2 separate regions of the Homo sapiens genome follow, and region 1 is linked to region 2. Evidence: fine-mapped expression QTL. A gene starts in region 2. The other region holds a variant in brackets. All regions are shown on one strand. Distances are between the middles of the regions. Region 1 has its middle 57 kb from the start of LINC02016. Region 2 holds the start of LINC02016 (long intergenic non-protein coding RNA 2016).

Region 1 (5,369 bases), 57 kb after region 2:
CCTAGCCTGCAGGCCTCCTCCCTACCCCAGCCCTTCCACCTGACGACCCAGTGACCAAGTGGACGACCCATGCCAAGTCCAGCACCCTGGGCTCTCAGGATCTCAATCCTCCACTCCATCCCAGCCTCCCAGGCCCTCAGCCACACCTTTAGGGTCAGCACCAGAAACCTACTGGATCTCCAACCAAATACCAGTTCTCCCTGATTGCTTTCATCCAAGCTCCACCATACCTATTCCTCCCCTTTGCAGAAACTCTCCCCCAATGGGAAGCTGTGAATCGTAGGGGTGGGCTCTGGAGCTGGACTGCCTGGGTTCAAATCCCACCTGCGCCAATGACTGGCTGTGTGACCTTTCTGTGCCTCGATTTCTTTATGTACAAAAGGCCTGAGGATGGCTCATCTTCATTCATTCAATAGTTGCTGAGTACCTGCCGTGTATCAGCCCCAGGACTGGGAACTGGGCATGAACCACGTAAAAGGAGACAAAACCCTTGTCCTCACGGAGGGAGAAACAACAGAACATGATAATTAAAATACACAACATAGCAAAGAGTGGTGGTTAAGCACTTGCAGCAAGACCAGGCTGGCCCTGACTGACCCAGCCAGAGCAGACACAACGAGCCACTTTTAGATTCTGACAGTGTGTGACCTGCATGGACAATGAAAGGAAGAGTCAGGGACAGTGTCATGTCCAGGGTCCCTGTCCTGCACACCTAAAATGATGCCACCAAAGCCAAGGGCCTGGACGACCACAGTCCGAGTTGGGTCTGAGTTGTGGGACACCCCATCACCGAGGAACCTGACACAGCTTGACTGCAGTTAAGTGGCTTTGAATTCCACAGCTCTATTCTGCTGGGGACCCAGGAGGCACTGCGGAGCTGCCTCAGCACTGCCTCCCAGGGGAGAGGCCTCCATCCTCCGGTGTTCCAGGAGGACTGCAGGGTGTCGTGCCAAGCTGGGTTAGGCTGTGGTTCAAGGGTGGGAACCTTTGCTGCGTGGCCCTGTGGCTGCATGCAGGGCGCCAAGGCGGAGCCGTTCCCTTATGCAGGGATGGAGGTGGTGTTATCTTTTTAAATTGGATGCCCAGAGAAGGCTTCACTGAGAAGGTAAGCTTGAGCAAATGCCTGAGTGAAGTGAAGAAGCAGGTTATGTGAGTATCTGGGAGAAGATGGTCCCAGGCAGAGGGAACAGCAGGATGCAAGGCCCTGAGGCAGGGTGGGGCTACATACCTGTGGAAAGGGAAGAAGTCACAGTGGCCAGGGTGGAGTCAGGAGTGGGAGGAGAGGCAAGAGCCAGTCATGCAGCGACAGGTGCCTAAACATGTCGAGCCCTGAGGGCCAATGTTGGGACTGAATTCTACTCCGAATAAGGTGAGAATCGGTATGGGGCTTAGGGAATAGACTGAGGGGCAAGGAGATGCCTCAGGAGCTTTCACAACAGTCCAGGCAAGACATAATGTCACTTGGTCCAGAGTGAAGGAGCAGAAGTGGTCTGATTCTGCTAATATTTTGAAGGTGGAGATGACAAGCTCTGGGTGGGGGATCATAAGAGACAAAGAGCCAAGAATAACACCAGGTTTTTGGCCTAAGCAGTCAGAAGGAAGAATGATGGGAAAGGCTGCAGAAGAAGCAGGATGGGGAGAGGTCAGGGGCTTGGTTTGGGACCTGTTGAGTTTGAGGCTCCCAACTGACCTTCAAGTGCTTGTCACATCGGCAGGAGGCAGGGTCATGGACTAGAGTGGACACAGGCCCAGGGTACAGCAAGGGCCAGGTGTGCAGCAGTCACCCGCAAAGGTGAGTTCCTTCTCCTGTTGACAGGTCTACTTTCTTACCTGTTAGAGGAAAGTGTCTCTTTCTCTCTTTCCCTCTTACATTCCAGGATCCATGATTCAACCACCCCCCTCGCTCTTGCCCTATCATCCTGCCATTGTACCTCCCATCTGGCAAGAACTCCAGCCTCAATGGATTCATCTGCCTGCCTGCTCTGTGCCTGTGCCAGACTGTGGGACACTGTTGGAAAGCATCAGACCACGCGGGGGACTGGTGCCACCATGCATGCCCTGGGAATTGTAGGCACTCCCTCACCACCCACACCCACCAAGTTCAGGCACTCTGACTCCTTCTTGTATCTCTTATCCATAGCTCTCCTCCATCCCCACTGGCTAAATAATAGCCACCAAAGTTGTCCATGCCCACACTGGAGTGGTGGTGCATGTCTGTAATATCAGCTACTTGGAAGGCTGAGGCAGGAGGATCGCTTGAGGCCAGGAGCTAGAGACCAGCCTGGGCAACACAGTGAGGCCCCATCTCTAAAAATGGTTTTAAAAATATTCACCAGGCATGGTATTGCATGCCTGTAGTCCCAGCTACTAGGGAGGATGAGGCAAGAGGATCCCTTGAGCTTGGGAATTTGAGGATACAGGGAGCTATGATTGCACCACTGCACTCCAGCCTGGATGACAGAGTGAGACCCCATCTCTAAAAAACAAACAGCTGAAAGATGTCTGTGTCCTAATCCCTGGAACCTGAGAATATACCAACTTACGTGCGAACAAGATTTTGCAGATGTGATTAAGTCAGGGATTTTGAAATGAAGAGCTTATCCTGGGTTATCCAGGTGGCCTCAATGCAACCACAAGGGTCCTTATAAGAGGGAG[G/C]CAGGAAGATCAGAATCAGGGAGAAGAGATGTGATGACGGAAGCAGAGGCTGGAGTAATGAGATTTGAAGACGGAAAAGAGGCCACAAGCCAAGAAATGCAAGTGGCCTCTAGAAGCTGGAAAAGCTATGAAAACAGATTCTCCCCTAGAGTTACCACAAAGGAAGGCGACTTGGCCAACACCTTGATTCTAGTCCAGTGAGGCCCATTTCAGACTTCCGACCTGCAGAGCTATAAGGCAATAAGCTGGTGTTGTTTTAAGCGTGGAGTTTGTGGCAATTTGCTATAGCAGCCTAGGAAACTAACACATTCTGCATTAGGTCAGACGCATCTTCTCCCACCTGGCCTACCACACCAGCCTCTTGCCAGAGCTCTATTGCAAGTCATTTTGGTCCGCTGCTGTCAGAGGATCCTGCGAAAGCCCGATCCTATCAACCGTTTTCTTATAATCAAGCCTCCCCACCACCTTTCAGCTCTTCAGTATGCCATCTAAGATTTCATGACCTGGCTCTCCTGCCTTCCCCTCAGCCCATTGCTCGTCACTCCCCTAGCGTTAAGGAGGGCTCTTGCTATGGTAAAAAGCATAATCTCATCTCACACAGGCATAAATAAAAGGGAAGTGATCTATTGGCTACTGTGCCAGAAAGGCCTTGGGACTTCTGGCACAGCTGGATCCAGGAACAGTGCCAGGAATTCATCTTTTGCCACTTCTGAGCTACACCTCCCTCTACTGTTGGCCTCATTCTCAGGCAGGCTCTCTCCTCAAGGTGAAAATACAGCCCCCACTGCCCTGCGGCTTGAAGCTTTCATTCTACCAGCTAAGCCACCCCCATAGCTCCAGCAAAAGTCTCAGGCATAGCATGCATTAATTGTGATTGGCTCTGCTTGAGTCATGTGTCCATGCAGCCAGAGAGATGCAAGTCTCTCATTGGCTAGGGCTCAGTCATATGCCCATACGTGGACCCAGGGGGCGGAGCCAGACCTTCCCCAATCACATAGACTGTGGATGAGAGAGAGTGGGTTCCTAAAAGAAAATTAAGAAGAGAAATAGGTACTGAGGAGGCAGGAATGACAATGCCCCTTCCACACACCCGGAGTCTCAGCCCCATCCCACGCTAGTCTTTGCCCAAATGTACCACGCTCCCTCCTTACTCTCTGCCAATCTCTCTGCCTCAAATGTTCCTCTTCCTCTCCTTGCCTTCCCTGTACCTTCTCCAGGAAGCCTCTCTGACCCCCAGACCTTGCCTGCTGTCTCCTTTGAGCTGTCACAGTCCAGTGCTTCTCCCTGGCTCTCCAGGACACACTGACACCATGTGAATGGCTGACTCCCACTGGTCCGCCTCCTACCCCAGTGGCAAACATGGTGGTTACTGTTATGGAGTACTGACCATGTGCCAGGCACCACCCCAGTGCTTTGTGGGCTTTATCTCACCTAATCCATACAACACGCCTGAGAGATGGATACTATGCCTAATCTCTAGTTCAGAGGGAAAAAACTGAGGCACACCCAAGATATGGAAAGGCACCCAGGCTGCCTGGCTGCAGACCTGTGCTCTCAGCCTTGATGCTACAGCCCTTTCTGTAGACCTCAGCAAAGCAGGAAGGGAGTTTGTTCACCTCTGAGTCCCCAGTGTGATTCCATTACAGCATAATTAAGACCACAGTTTCCGGAGTCAAGCCAATCTAGGGTCCATCCTGGAGGCTGTGACTCTTTGAGACATTAAAGTAAGGTGTATAATATTCCCTTGGCTCAATTTCCTCATCTGCGGAACAGGATAACAATAGTACCTACCTCTTAAGTTTGAAGCAAAGATGAAAGAAAAGAATGCTTTAGCATTCAGCACAAAGCCTGGCACGTAGTCAGAGCTCACAAAGTGTTAGCTGTGATGAGGCTGAGGGATGATGCTACCAGCAATTTGCTCCTTGATATATTGGGGAAATGGAGGGCTCTTCTCCCTTCCCTCATGTAACACACAGCCAGAAAAATTGATGGTCAAGGGGACTCAAGCCCTCTCTAGTTCTGTTTAAAACCCTTGCCACATTCTCAGGGAGCTGAGTTTTTGATACCTGGCTCTTCTCAAAAGACTGTGCCCCCAAGAGCAGGAGAAACTGGTCCAGCACGGTGGTTGCCATGGAAACCATTGAATGTAAATTTCATGTTCTGCCTTGCCCAGCTAAGCTATCGATTCAGCAAGAGGGAGAGAAATTGGGAGCTGTTTCCTTCCCAAAGTAAAAGAGAAAGTGCAGACCCAAAGTGAAAACAGAAGGAAGTGTGGCCAGGGGATCGAAACCTAGTTGGAAAAAAGATGGAACAGGGGTAGGCTGAGGGAGCAGGGAGGGAGGGAAGGACTAGAGAATCACTTTCCACTCCCATTAACCTGCTGGCACAGGTAAGTAGCCAGCTCCTAACACAGGCTCTAGAGTGATCTCGGCCCTGGCCTCAGCACTGGCACCTACCAGCTGCGTGATCTGGGGCAAATGGCTGACCCTCTATGAGCCTGTTTCATTATGTATAGAAACATGGATAAAAATTGCAACCTGGCAAGCTTGTCCTGGGGACATCATCACCCACGCATCCCAAGGCCTCTCTGGCATGCTGTCTTCTTCCTTTTTAGCCTGAAATTCCCACCATTGTTGTCATACTGAAGTTGTCATCGACGACTTCAGTACTCAAGGGAAAGAATGTGGTCCCAAGGAGCTGCAGTGGAAAACTCG
Region 2 (5,369 bases):
TCGCCAGTGTCACCCTCGCCAGTGTCACCCCCACCAGTGTCACCCCTGCCAGTGTCATCCCTCCACCAGTGTCACCCACCTGCCAGTGTCACCCCCTCCCAGTGCCACCCACCTGCCAGTGTCACTTGCTTGTCAGTGTCATCCCACCCACCAGTGTCATCCCCCCGCCAGTGTCACCCACCCACCAGTGTCATCTACCTGGTGGTGTCATCCCCCCGACAGTGTCACCCACCCGACAGTGTCATCCACCCAGCAATGTCACCCACCCAGCTAGCACTTGCAGTGCAAACGGGTTTTGGACCCCTGCCTGTGCTTCCCCTGCCCCTGGGGACCTGGGAGTGTCCCATTTTGCATCTTCGTTTGCCCTCCCTGGTTTCTCCTGGGCTCTCTGCTGGCCCTCTTGTCTCCAGGCCTAGGTCCCCAGATAGCTCTCTGTCTTGTTCACCCCACACTGGGGTCCAGTAGTAATACCCACTGTGTCCGTTCCCTGGTGTTCTGTATCCCTTCCACCCCGCCTTGTCTGCCACTCCTGAGCCATGTTGTCTTCCAGAAAATGCTACAAAGACAGCCATCTCTCTGGATCCCCCAACTCATCCCCCGGCTTCTACCATCCCTGCTCCCCAGCTCCACCCAGAAGACGCTGGCAGGGCATAGAGCCTTCGCAGGACACAGGTCTGTCTCACTCAAATCCTCCTCCTCTCCCTGTGGTGAGTTGCAAATAAAAAGGTCACAAATGTCTTTACTCCCCTATGCTCACCCCCTTGCAAGATGACCGTGTGCTCTGCTTCTCCCGTCAGGAGAGTAGGGGCTCCTTCCTTCTACCCCCCAGCCTGGGCCTGGCCAAGGGGACGCTAGCAAATGATGCAAGAAGAGACTGGAAAAGAGCCTGGCTTTACAGCCCTCCTTGACTGCCCAGGGAAGAAGCCTGGGCTGGGCTTCTTGAGGATAGAAGACTGGCACCCAGCCCCGGGCCTCTCAGCGGCCACCCAGACATGTGAGCGAGGCTGCCACAATGATCCAGCCCCAGCTGAGCCCACGGAGACCAGAACTCCCCGGGCAACCCACAGAACAATGAAAAAATTACTGTCGGTTGTGCTGCCTTTGGCCCCTGGGTTTTGGGAAGGCTTGCTATGCCATGAAAGCTAACTGACGTACCCCCTCCTGCTTCTCCAGCCCCAGAGACTCTGTTTCCTCCTGAGAGGGAGAAGCTGTCACTGGCTCCACACCTGCTCCTTCACGTCTCTGAGAAGCTTTGAGACCCTCAGGGCATTTGATAGGGGCACACCAGGCTCTTGCAAATTAAAAGCATTGACTCCTGAAATGGAAAAACTAAGACTCTAACTCTTGTTCACCTGCAGTAACTTTCCTCCATAAGGCCACCGGATGTCTCATGGTCAAGTTTTTTTTGTTTTTTTTTTTGAGACGGAGTCTCGCTCTGTTGCCCAGGCTGGAGTGCAGTGGCGCGATCTCGGCTCACCGCAATCTCCGCTTCCCAGGTTCATGCCATTCTCCTGCCTCAGCCTCCCAAGTAGCTGGGACTACAGGCACCCGCCACCACACCCAGCTAACTTTTTGTATTTTTAGTAGAGACGAGGTTTCACCGTGTTAGCCAGGAAGGTCTCGATCTCCTGACCTCATGATCCGCCCGCCTCAGCCTCCCAAAGTGCTGGGATTACAGGCATGAGCCACCGCGCCCAGCCCATGGTCAGGTTTTAATAGGGGAATAACTACTAGTCAAAGAGGAATTAGGATAGACAAAAAAATAATTTTTAACACACCAAAATACGATCTCATCACATACTTATTGAGTGCCCGCTAGACTCCGGATGCCTGGTAGGAGCCAAGGACACAATGAAGGCGAGGAGACCCAGACCCCACTCTCCTGGGCTCTCTGTCTGGCCTGGGATCCAGCTAGCCCTCAGGTCACCACAAGAATGGTGACTCATCCATCCATTCACTCTTCCGCTCGCATGGCAAGTATTTCCTGAGTCCCTACAGTGCGCCAGGAACTCTAAGAGTCACAGGGCATACCACCGTGAGAGCACCAAGATGTGCAAGCCCCTCGGGAGAGGGGACAGGGCAGGGTCATCCCATCTGGGGCCAGGAAGGGCTTCCTGAGCCAGTGCAGATGACGCTCAAACCCAAAGAATGTGATGCAGTTAACTGGACAAAGACTTGGTAGTGGGGTGCAGGGGAGCAGAGGAGAACGTTCTAGAAGTGCTAAGGCCCAGCAGTGGCTGGGAGGGCCTGAAAGAAGGCCAGAGTGTCTGGGGAACACAGATGTGGGGGAGCCCTGGTGGGAGCCTGGAGGAATGGGCAGGGCCAGCTTGAAGGGTGTCCTTGGACCCTGAGTGAGGATTCCAAAGGCTTTTGGGGAGACCAGGTGGGCATTAACCCCGTCAGGCCACTCCCACCTGCTCCACCTGGTTCCAGGTACCAGAGACACCCCATCAGCAGGCACAGGGGCCCCAGCAGCAGCCACATCTCCACAGCCTGACCTCCCACCCCCACAGCTCACCCCAAGCCCAGGTGTTCTGAAAACAGCCCACACCTCTGCACCCCCAGCGTAGCCCACCCTTTTGGTCCTCTTCTTGTTAAAAGACTTACCCTAAAGAGGCAGCTCAGACTCCACCTCCTCCAGGAAGGCTTTTCTGATGCTGTGCAACCCCAAGCTGGATGCTACTGATGGTTTGTGCTGGCAGAGCTGCCCCTATGTCCCTTGATTCTATTCCTGTATCACTATTGACAGTCCCACAGAGCAGTGACATCCCCGGGTCAGGGGCTCTGCACTCACCTGGGATGCTCGACCCTGCATGGGTCACAGTGGCAGCTCCAGAACCGCTAGGTAGGGTGGGGGCTAAATCCCGGCAGGCCGGGTGTCACTATGCTGTGCTGCATTGGCACTGTGTTCTCCTTACACAGGTGACCTGGGCAGGGGCTCTGAGGAGCCGGTGGCGAGTCTGAGGTCTCAAGTGCCCAGGCCCTGTGTGCAGCTACAGAGTTAGGGGCCGGCAAGTGCAGGATTGGCTGTGGAGAGGCACAGGCTGAATTTGGCCCAGCGTAAGCGTTCTGGGAATGTGTGGTGTTGCTACTGGGACTTGGGCTGCCTTGGGTGTGGCTGCATACCGTGGGCCCAGGGAGGTGGGGAGTGGGGACTGCGGGGAGTCTGGGGAGTCACTGAAGATGCAGGTGCTGAAAGACACAGCCATCTTCAGGCAAGCCCGGGCTGAAGGGTGCAGGAACTCAGACTGTCCTGGGGGTTGGGGTGTTTCCCAGAGGTGCTCGTGCTGGGTAAAGGCCAGGGGCAAAGGGAGGAAGCCCAGCCCAGGGTTCGTCCATGCCACACCTCAGGGTCAGGCTCCCAGGGAGCCATGCTGAGCATGGCAGTGAGCACAGAGGTTGGAGCACCACGTCCTGGGGCCCACACCTTCACCTCTTCATCCATAATAGACACAGTGGGACCCCCTGGCCAGTGGGGAGGAGGAGGCACAGAGGCTGCGGGAAGCTCCCAGCACAGGACCCTGGGCTCCATAGTGTGGGTGCCGTTTCCTGCAGAACAGGGACTCAGACATGGACAACCAAAAGTTATCAGAATTGGGGTGCTTAGTAGGGACTAGATCCTGTACAGCCAGCCAAAGAGTAACTAAGCGCCCACTGTGTTACAAGTGCTTTGTCTACTTAGAGGTGAAGGCACTTACCTCTGTGGCAGATGCAGGGATGTGCCTCAGACCTGCTTCATGGAAGGATACACTGCCCAGCTGCTAGGGGCTGTAACCAGACGTGCTCAGCATCACCCCCAGTTGCAGACAGACAGCACCCCTGTGCCATCCTCCCCAGGCCCATGTCCTATGACTGAGCCACACAGGCCTGGACAACCCCCTGCTCAGGACAGCTCTGGTCTACTCCAGTCCCAGGCCCAAAGGGAGTCCTGGCTGTCCTTGTGCCAGCAGTGAAGCTCGGTGTCTCCTCTGCCTGCTCCTGCTCCTCCCTCCCTGCCCCAGACCCGGTCCAGGCCCTCCTGAGAGCCCCTGTAGCTGGTCCCAGGCACCGACACCAGGCTTCCATGGGGCTGATAACCAGCGGGCGAGGTGACAAAACACCAAGTCAGAGGGAGCTTTCCAGGCTCTGCTGCAGGAGCTGTGCAGGCGAGGCAGAGAGCAGCCTGGGGGTGTCCAGAAGGATGTCCCTCGAGGACAGACACTCACATGGAGCCCTGGAGGCTGCAGAGGACACAGCCCTGCTGTGACAGCCAGGAAACAGTATCCCAAGCCATGGGGACAGCAAAGGCTAGGCCGAGGTCTGATGCAGGAGGAGCTGGAGGGCAGAGGGCGGGCGGAGCACCGCCTCGGGAACGAAACAGCTGGGGAACCTGGAGGGCACCTGGATGGTTACCTCTAGGTCACTGTGGAACTGATCTGCCTGCATCCTCCCTCCTGTTTCTGGGGCTGGCCAAGGCACGCTGGAGCTGGGGCTGGGGCTGGGGCTGGGGCTGGAGCTGGCAGGCCGAGGTTCCCACCCCACAGGCACCGGAGATGAGTTGGTAAGAAAAGGGCACCCTCTGGCTGCACTGATTCTGCTGAGGGCTCGGAGGCTCATCTCCCTGGGGGCAGCCCCGGGCGCAGCTGCTCTAAAATCACCCACTCAGCCATTTCACAGGCAGAAATCCTTCGCTTCAGGCATTTGCATCCAAAGCTGTCCGCAGCCTACTCCCCACCGTGGCTGGGTTTAATCTGCTAGCACTGGGGCTGTGGGGCTGGGACAATTAATTAAAGATCCCAGGGAGCAGCCAGCTCTCATTAAGTCCTGCATCAGATGGGAGGGGTGCTGGGGAAGAACACTCTTGCCGAGACTGCACTTTTGCCCCAGCCAAGTATTTTCTCATCTATTATCTCCATCGATCCTGGCCGCGGCTCTAAGAAGAGGGGATTATTATCACCATTTTGCAAGTGCAGAAATGGAGACTCGGGTTAAGTTGTGTGTTAGAGTCTCCCAGCTCCAAAGCAGTGGGGCTGAGATCCACACCGGGCACACTCGGGCTCTCTCAGGATCTCCCTGGAGGTAGGAAGAGCAACACTGCAGTGATGCTCAGGAGACCATGCAGGCTCCACTCCCCAGGGCTGCAGAGAATGGGTCCCAGAGGGAGCTAGGGAGGACAAATCGGGTTCCTGGAAGGCACCTTTGACCCTCAGATGCTATGGGGGTGTAAACTTTCTTCACTGAGGAAGAATTTGTGATTTCCCCCAACATGGGGAAGGGGCAGAGAATTCCCTGGGCATGGCTGGGGCTGACTCTGTGCTGGCCACTCCTGGGGACCCAGAGATGTGTCTTCCTCCCTCCTCACCTGTGCAGAGGAGTTGTCCAAAGACAAC

What was found.
Region 1: its variant is fine-mapped to the expression of LINC02016 in lung (TOPMed, PIP above 0.99).

Annotation. Positions count from the first base shown.
Region 1 is chr3:127,444,899-127,450,267 of GRCh38, forward strand. No RefSeq gene overlaps it. Among named protein-coding and RNA genes, the nearest start is that of LINC02016, 57 kb to the left of the region's middle. The variant G/C (reference allele first, on the strand shown) is at 2,656.
Region 2 is chr3:127,387,652-127,393,020 of GRCh38, forward strand. It overlaps LINC02016 (long intergenic non-protein coding RNA 2016), which reads right to left and starts at 3,019. Exons shown (of 5, transcript NR_110147.1): 1 at 2,795-3,019. It overlaps LOC105374094 (a long non-coding RNA gene), which reads right to left and starts at 1,247. Exons shown (of 3, transcript XR_924459.3): 1 at 758-1,247. RefSeq lists an enhancer at 4,041-4,852.